Linked DNA regions of Homo sapiens. The protein of the gene in region 1 interacts with the protein of each later gene in a biochemical or structural test. Each region holds a gene or a part of one and is shown on either strand. Other genes may lie near its edges.

Evidence for each region.
Region 2: the proteins of COL18A1 (region 1) and ITGB1 form a complex in vitro, tested with the Homo sapiens proteins (one study listed by BioGRID).

Annotation. Positions count from the first base shown.
Region 1 is NC_000021.9:45,411,636-45,415,449, forward strand, and holds part of COL18A1 (collagen alpha-1(XVIII) chain isoform 4 preproprotein), read left to right. Parts: intron 1-3,814. UniProt on the Homo sapiens protein: Probably plays a major role in determining the retinal structure as well as in the closure of the neural tube.
Region 2 is NC_000010.11:32,906,153-32,909,966, forward strand, and holds part of ITGB1 (integrin beta-1 isoform 1A precursor), read right to left. Parts: intron 2,383-3,814; coding exon 2,216-2,382; intron 992-2,215; coding exon of another isoform or gene 917-991; exon of another isoform or gene 911-916; intron 1-910.

The DNA.
Region 1 (3,814 bases):
GCCCGGCGCTGTGAGTGAGCAGTCATAGGGAACAGTGCACCCTTATCGCTGACACAGGCGAGGGCTTCGTCTTCTCACAGCTCTTATCTTGGGTGTCACCCCAGCCAGAGTCAGGGCTGATGGCGGGGGGTGGGGGGGGGGCAGGCTGTGGTCAGGGACCTGCAGGAGAGGGGAGGGCCTCGCTTCTGATGGGCGACGTTCATTTACACACAGCTCTGCGGCCCAAACGGCCAGGCTGGATCCTGTCTTTTAAAAACCTTGCTAATTTGGTTGATGGAAAATATCATCTCAGAGTTCTGTTTTGTGAGTCCCCATTGCCATGCGGGCAAACATTTTCATCCACTAAGGGGCCGTCGTGTTTCTCTGGGAACGTGGCGTTCACCGTGTGGGTGAACTTTTTCACGCACTAAGGGGCCGTCGTGCTTCTCTGGGAATGCCGGGTTTGTGGCTCGTGCCCACTGCCCTGCAGGTGCATTCTCTTTCCCCGTAGCTTTTTGTCTGTTGATGCTTTCAGCTCTGGATGTCCTATTTTGCGTACTTTTATTGTTTATGGTCAGCCTTTAACTGGGGGTATGATATTTCTTTAACTGGGGGTATATTTCTTTTTTTTTTTTTTTTCGAGATGGAGTCTGGCTCTGTTGCCCAGGCTGGAGTGCAGTGGCGTGATCTTGGCGCCCTGCAACCTCCATCTTCCGGGCTCAAGCGATTCTCCTGCCTCAGCCTCCTGAGTAGCTGGGACTACAGGTGTGGGCCACCACGCCTGGCTAATTTTTTTTTTTTTTTTAAAGTAGAGACGGGGTTTTGCCATGTTGGCCAGGCTGGTCTCAAACTCCTGACCTCAGGTGGTCCACCTGCCTCGGCCTCCCAAAGTGCTGGGATTCCAGGCGTGTGCCACTGTGCCCAGCCATGGGGTATATTTCTTAATGTGTGGAGTTGTTTTTCCTCATTTTTCTGGTCCCTTTAGAGATGGCACCCTGGAGTGGCCAGCAGAGCTCAGGGGCCTGCGGCCCAGGCACACAGACAATGGAGCTGGCCCTGCCACTTTGCTCATCTGTGGTGCAGGTCTGCTGAGGGGCCGTGAGGGTCCTGCAAGTGAAGGTGCTTGAGGCCTCAGTGCCTGTGGGGAGGCCACGTGGCACCTGTCAGCTGTTAGCGTCTTGACTCTGCCTTTGTGGATATGGAATTAGAGATGCTTCTCACAGTAGTGGCTAAACTGTCAGGAAGCCTGGCCGTCATCTATGGTCCTCTTTGCCCTCATGGGTGGGATGCCGCCTAGTGTGATGGCTGAGAGCTCAGGCTGTGACCCTGAGTGTGTGTGGCCACGGGCAGGCTGCTCACCCTCTCCGTGTCTTGGTCTCTAATCTGTGCCTGGGGATGGTGGAGCGTCATGGGGCCATACAGGAAGGATGGGACATCACACATCGGCTTCCTGGGGTGTGTCCTGCTGACAGCCCTCTGAGGCCAGCCGGTCCTGAGGCTCTAGGGGGGACGCCACAGTGGAGAGAGGGCTCCATCCCCACCCTTAGGGCAGAGCCCCGTAGGAGGGACTGGTTTGCAACGTGAGTAAAATGGGTCCCCGTGAGCAGACACAGCTTTTGTGCTGCTTCTTACTGAGCCCCGCGCTGTGCCTGCTGAACTGAAAGATGTGTATTAGAGAGGGCAGCCATTCCCACCTCCTCCAGCCGCGCTACGTGTCCGCAGGCCAGGGCGCCTGCACCATGACAGGCTTCAACGCCCCTGTCGCGGGGACCCAGGGAACACCTGTCTCCTCCACTTGCTGGATTTGTGACTGGGCGGCAAACATTTTCTAAAGTCTCCCGCTACGACCCCTCGGCTGTCAGGAGACTTCTGAGAAAGCCGGGCCTCTTTTGCCCCAGCGAGGAGCTTTCTTGTGAAGAGGCAGTTCCCGGAGGGAGGCGTCTGTGCTTTGTAAAGTTTAGCCTCATGTGCTGCCTCTGAGGAGGAGTTCAGAGAACATCCGCTTCCTTTCTGTTATCATCTCAGCCTTCCAGCCAGAAAGAAGGAAGCGTCCATGGATCCCGTCCACGCTAACCTTGGGGTCCCTCTGCCAGCCCTGCACATCCTTGTCCCTGGGCACTGAGGGAAGCAAAGGCCCCGCCAGCCATGCCCAGCACTTGTGCCTGGGCCTTTGCAGAGGCTAGAGGCAGGGTAGAGGATGGAGAGGGTTTAAAAGGCAGGTTCCCAGGAAATTCCCTAGGTGTGGGATTGGAGGGGTGCTGAGGGAGGTGGCGGACCCTCAGGGGCAGGAGCCTTATGGAGTGAGCTGGTCCATGGAGCTGGGAGGCGTCTTCTAGTATAAATTCTCATTTCAGCTAAACAGCTTGCCCTCTCCAAGCCCGTGTGCACCTGAACCATCTCTGCTCTCTGAGCCTTGGTCCCTTGGAGGAGCAGGAGGAGGTGGAGGAGGAGGATCGGGAGGAGGAGGGGGAGGCCCTTTCTGTATTGGATGCACCGCCTGGCCCCAGGCCCTCCTGCCCAGCCTTGTGGCTCTGGCCGTCAATCAGCTCCCTTCTCCTGGCTTTGCTGCTGCCCTGCCTCTTGCTAGGAGGCCATGGTGTGCCTGTGCCTGGCAGGCAGTGTTGCTGCTGACCTCTCATCTGTTTTGGGTCCCCAAATCTCAGCCCTGTCTCCCTTTCGGGGGCACATCTTGATGCGGGGTCTCTGATCCCCTCGGGGCAGCAGGACATCCCTGTTTTCCAGCTGAAATGAGACTTCACCCCCAAAGGAATGGGCTCCAGTCCGACCTACTCAGGTTGTTAGTCACACGTTTCTATTGTGAAAATGACTGAGAATGTTGTGGGAGGTTTGGAAACCAGGAAGACCACCTGTCCCAATTCAGCCTTTCCTGTCATCACAGGGGACGTCTGGCATTTTAACAGACCTGGGCGGCCTCCTGCAGACAAGGCTCGGACCCTGCGGCCGACTCTGCCCCAGGCCTGGCCCCTGCTGATGGCCATGCTCCGGGCATGTGGCCTGAGGGCCTCACGGACAGCCAGCCTCCCAGACCAGAAAACAGCCCTGCCCGCCAGTGAGAGGGCAGACAGATGGACACTAATGTCCCCGAACCTAAGAAACAAAACCCAAAACCCTCATTTATGCTTCCACTTCCGATCACACGCATAGAAGGCCGAATACTGACCCCGAGCTGACCACCCCGGCCTGTGGGACCCGTGAGTATGGCCTGTGTGTGGGATGAGGCTCAGGATCAGGTGCAGATGACCCTGGATTATCAGGTGGGCCCCACGTCATTACGAGGGTCCTTATAGAGAAGGGGCAGGACAGGGAGAGGAGGGGATGATGGAGATGGAGCCGCTGGGGAGGGCATGAGAAGACCAGGAAGTGGGTTCCCCCTGGAGCCTCCAGAGGACCCCTGCGGGCACCGTGACTTCTGACTTCCAGTCTCCTGAGCTCTGAGGGATGCCTGTGTTGCTTTAAGACACTGACTGACTTGTCCCAGCAGCCAGAGGTGACAGTGCGGCGTGGTGTTGGTTCACCGAAGGGGTGGCATTAGTGACCATGGGAATAAGGGCCTCTCACCTGCGAAGGGCCACTCTGTGGGGCAGGAAGTCTTGGATGTGTGCCGGCTTCAGCAGGACCCTCAAGGCTGCTGGGGGTCAGAATACGAGCACTTCCTGCACACCCAGGGCCACCCCAGGCTGCAGGCTTTGTGGAGACTTAAAGATGAGTCCTCGGCCTTCGGAATCTCCTGACTCAATGGAACCTCTGGTCTTCAGGTCCCCAGGATGACCTCCCAACAGGCCCAGGGCAGCAGCCAGGAGCTGGACACCCAGGG
Region 2 (3,814 bases), on another chromosome or scaffold:
TCTTTTGAGAACCAATAATGATATTGTAGTTGCATACCATACAAATATCATAGTAGGTTATATTTTTCTATTTTGCAATTTGGATTTCGTGATCAATTTTCACTATCCAACCCTAAAATTTACTCATAACAAATTTGTTATTTAAGGATAATACTGGTGGGGCACAGTGGCTCACGCCTGTAATCCCAGCACTTTGGGAGACCGAGGTGGGCAGAGCACTGGAGGTCAGGAGTTCAAGGCCAGCCCAGCCAATGTGGTGAAACCCCATCTCTACTAAAAACAAAAAAATTAGCCTAGCATGGTGGCAGGCACCTGTAATCCCAGGTACTCGGGAGGCTGAGGCAGGAGAATTGCTGGAATCTGGAAGTCAGAGGTTGCAGTGAGCTGATATCACACCACTGCACTCCAGGCTGGGCGACAGAGAGAGACTGTCTCAAAATAAATAAATAAATAAACAGAAAAAGAACAAAAGATAATAGGATAATATCATTCTAGGCACAGGACTGTTATGAGGATTAGAGCTGACAGGCTGATTTCATATACTGGAGTGCATTTGCCAAATACAACCACCCCATACAAAACAGAGTACTGACTCCCTGTGACAGTTGAGAGAAGTGAAGTGACTCAATGCTGTTCTACTTACTAAGTGGAAGAGGTGGGATTTGACCTGAGGTCTAACTGATTGCAAAGCACATTCTCTTTTCACTACAACATGGCTGCTGTTTCTATATCACATTACTTATTTTACGGTCTTTCTAAACGCGAAGTTAACATACAAAAAGAAAAGCCACAATAGCGATATTTAAAGCCAGACTTAAAAAAAGAACAGCAATAGTGATAAAGGACACACAGTGCAGTAAAAAAGATAGAAGTTCACATGCAAAGGCAGAAAGTGAAACAAAATACGAACGGCAATTTAGAGACCAGCTTTACGTCCGTAGTTTGGATTCTTGAAATTATTAATAGGACTCTTGTAAATCGGATTTTCTTGCTAAAGTAAAAGAAATAGTTTCTAATGATTTCATCAGAAAAAAAAAATCCCTTTATAGTGTTTGAACACTATAAATGTCTTTTTTTTTATTTCTACCCTTCTGAAATTTGTAATTTAAAAAATTGATAATTTTTAAAAACCCAAGCAAATTGTAGTAAAGTGCAACTAACTACAAAATTCATTTACAATTTAAAAATACTGAAGATTGGCATTGCTTTCTTGTATCAAAAGATGAATACACAAAGGCCAACATTTGGTTACCCCACCCTCTGACTCCATATTTCAAAGCACTCAATGCTAACATAACCTTTCGGTCACTTAGGGCTTTTAAGATTTTTATAAGCCAAAGTTTACTGAGATATAATTTTCATAGAGGAACATACATCTTTTTAAAGTACATAGTTCTGTGAGTTTTCAAATACATAAATCCACCCACAATCAAGATCATCCCAAGGAAGATCCCTTACGCCCCTCTGTGGTCAACACTTTCCCCCATTCCAGCCCCTAGCAACCACTGATTTTTGCCCCTACAGTTTTGCTTTTCCAGAATGTCCTCTAAATGGAATCATATAGTATATAGCAGGGGTGTCCAATCTTTTGGCTTCCCTGGGCCACACTGGAAGAAGAAGAATTGTCTTGGGCCACACATAAAATACACTAACGATAGCTGATGAGCTTTAAAAAAAAGTTACCAAAAAAAAATAATAATAATAATTACAATTTCTAAGAAAGTTTACAAATTTGTGTTGGGGCCACATTCAAAGCTATTCTGGGCTGCATGTCCTGGCCGACGAGCTGCGAGTTGGACAAGCTTGGTATATAACCTTTTGAATCTGGCTTTCACTGAAGGTTTTTTTTGTTTGTTTGTTTTAAAGAAAGAAGCAGCTTTCCATTGAATAGCTTGCTACACAGATAACATTATTTAGGATTCTACTTCACATTAGATGAAAAGGCAGATTTAGGATCAAAACTATTAAAGAAATAAAAATACTGGCCACAGTAACCAGAATATACATGCTTATAATCAATGTTTTGTTTCAATGGGATATATTTAGGATGCTTTCTGTTTTTCACTAAATGCAAATTCCTTGAGTAAGAAACTTTTGGGGGAATAAAATACTTAGAAAGGACTTTAATAATCAGCCTGACAGCTAATACATAAGTCTTAGGAGTATTACATTTACTTTATAAGCCACTTTGCTTTTTGGATGTTTTGTAACTTACCGTGTCCCATTTGGCATTCATTTTCTCCTTTTCAAATTTAGCAAACTCCCTTCTGTCATGAATTATCATTAAAAGCTTCCATATCAGCAGTAATGCAAGGCCAATAAGAACAATTCCAGCAACCACACCAGCTACAATTGGAATGATGTCTGGACCAGTGGGACACTCTGGAAAATAAGAAGGTAATAATGAGCACCACAAAGAGCTGTGCAGTGTCTTATAAAAAACATACAGGAATAAACACCCAAGAGAGTGAACGCACACTATCCCAAAGAATCTATAAAATAGCTCTTAGAACTAACAAGTGAGTTTACAAGGTTGCAGGATACATGATCAATGAACAAAAATCATGTATTTTTCTATATATATAATTTATTTCTACATATTGAAAATATAAGTTTTTAAACAGTAATATTTACTACAGAATGAAAAAGCATGAAAAACTTACATATAAGTCTAACAAAATATATGCAAGATTTGCATGTTAAGAATTACTAAATACTGATAAAAAGAAATCTTTCAGACTGAATAAATGGAGAGATATTCCATGTGCAGGAGTTACAAAACCTAATACCGTTAAGACGTCAATTCTTCCCAATTTGATCTATAAACTCAATGGTATCCCACTCAAACTCCTGGCAGAACTTCTGTAGCAATCAGTAAGCCACTTCTAAAATTTACATGGAAGGCAGGGAACTAAGGAAGTGTCTCAAAAACACTTTTGTAAAAGAATAAAGTTGGAAGACCCTGCTTTCAGGCCTAGCTATAAAGAAAGCTACAAGACCATGTGGTATAGCTAACACTCAGATACATGGAACAGAATACAGAGTCAGAAACAGGCCTACACATGTAAGGTCACCTGATGTTCAACAAAGGTGGAGAAAAGACAGTCTTTTTTCAACAAATGCCCCTAGAACAAGTGGACACTGACATGAAAAAAACTGAGCCTTTTGTCACACACTAACTCAAAATGAGTTACAGATCTAAATGTGAAACCCCAGAAACTATAAAACTTCTACCAAAAAACAGAGGAGAAAAATCCTTATAATCTTGGGTTAGGCAGAGTTCTTAAAGACAATGTAAAAGCAAGAGCCACAGAAGAAAAACTTGGTAAACTGTACTTAATCAAAATTAAAACCTGTGGTGTTCAGAAGACACTTAAAAAAATGAAATGATAAGGAGACACAGGCTGGGAGACAATATTTGCAAAACACCTAGCTGATAATTCAAAACAGTATGGGAGTCTAAGAGTCTGGCAGCTTCTTAACAAAGTTAAACATATGCTTACCATATGCTCCAAAATGCCATTTTTAGTATTTACCCAAGAGAAATGAAAGCTTATGTTCACACAAAAACATGTACACTATGGTAGAAAATTCCAAAGAATCTACAAAAAGGCTACTAGGAAAACTAAGATTAAAAAAAAAAAGTTTCACCTCCGGAGAAGTTGAACAAATTCAACACTTTATATTAATATCCTTTAACAAATTATCTTTCCCAGTATTCAAGCTTAAATCAAGCTCTAATTTTAAAATCATCAATCATCAAAAAACTCTTAATATGCACTTGGTGTCAGGCATCGTTCTAAGTGTCTTATAT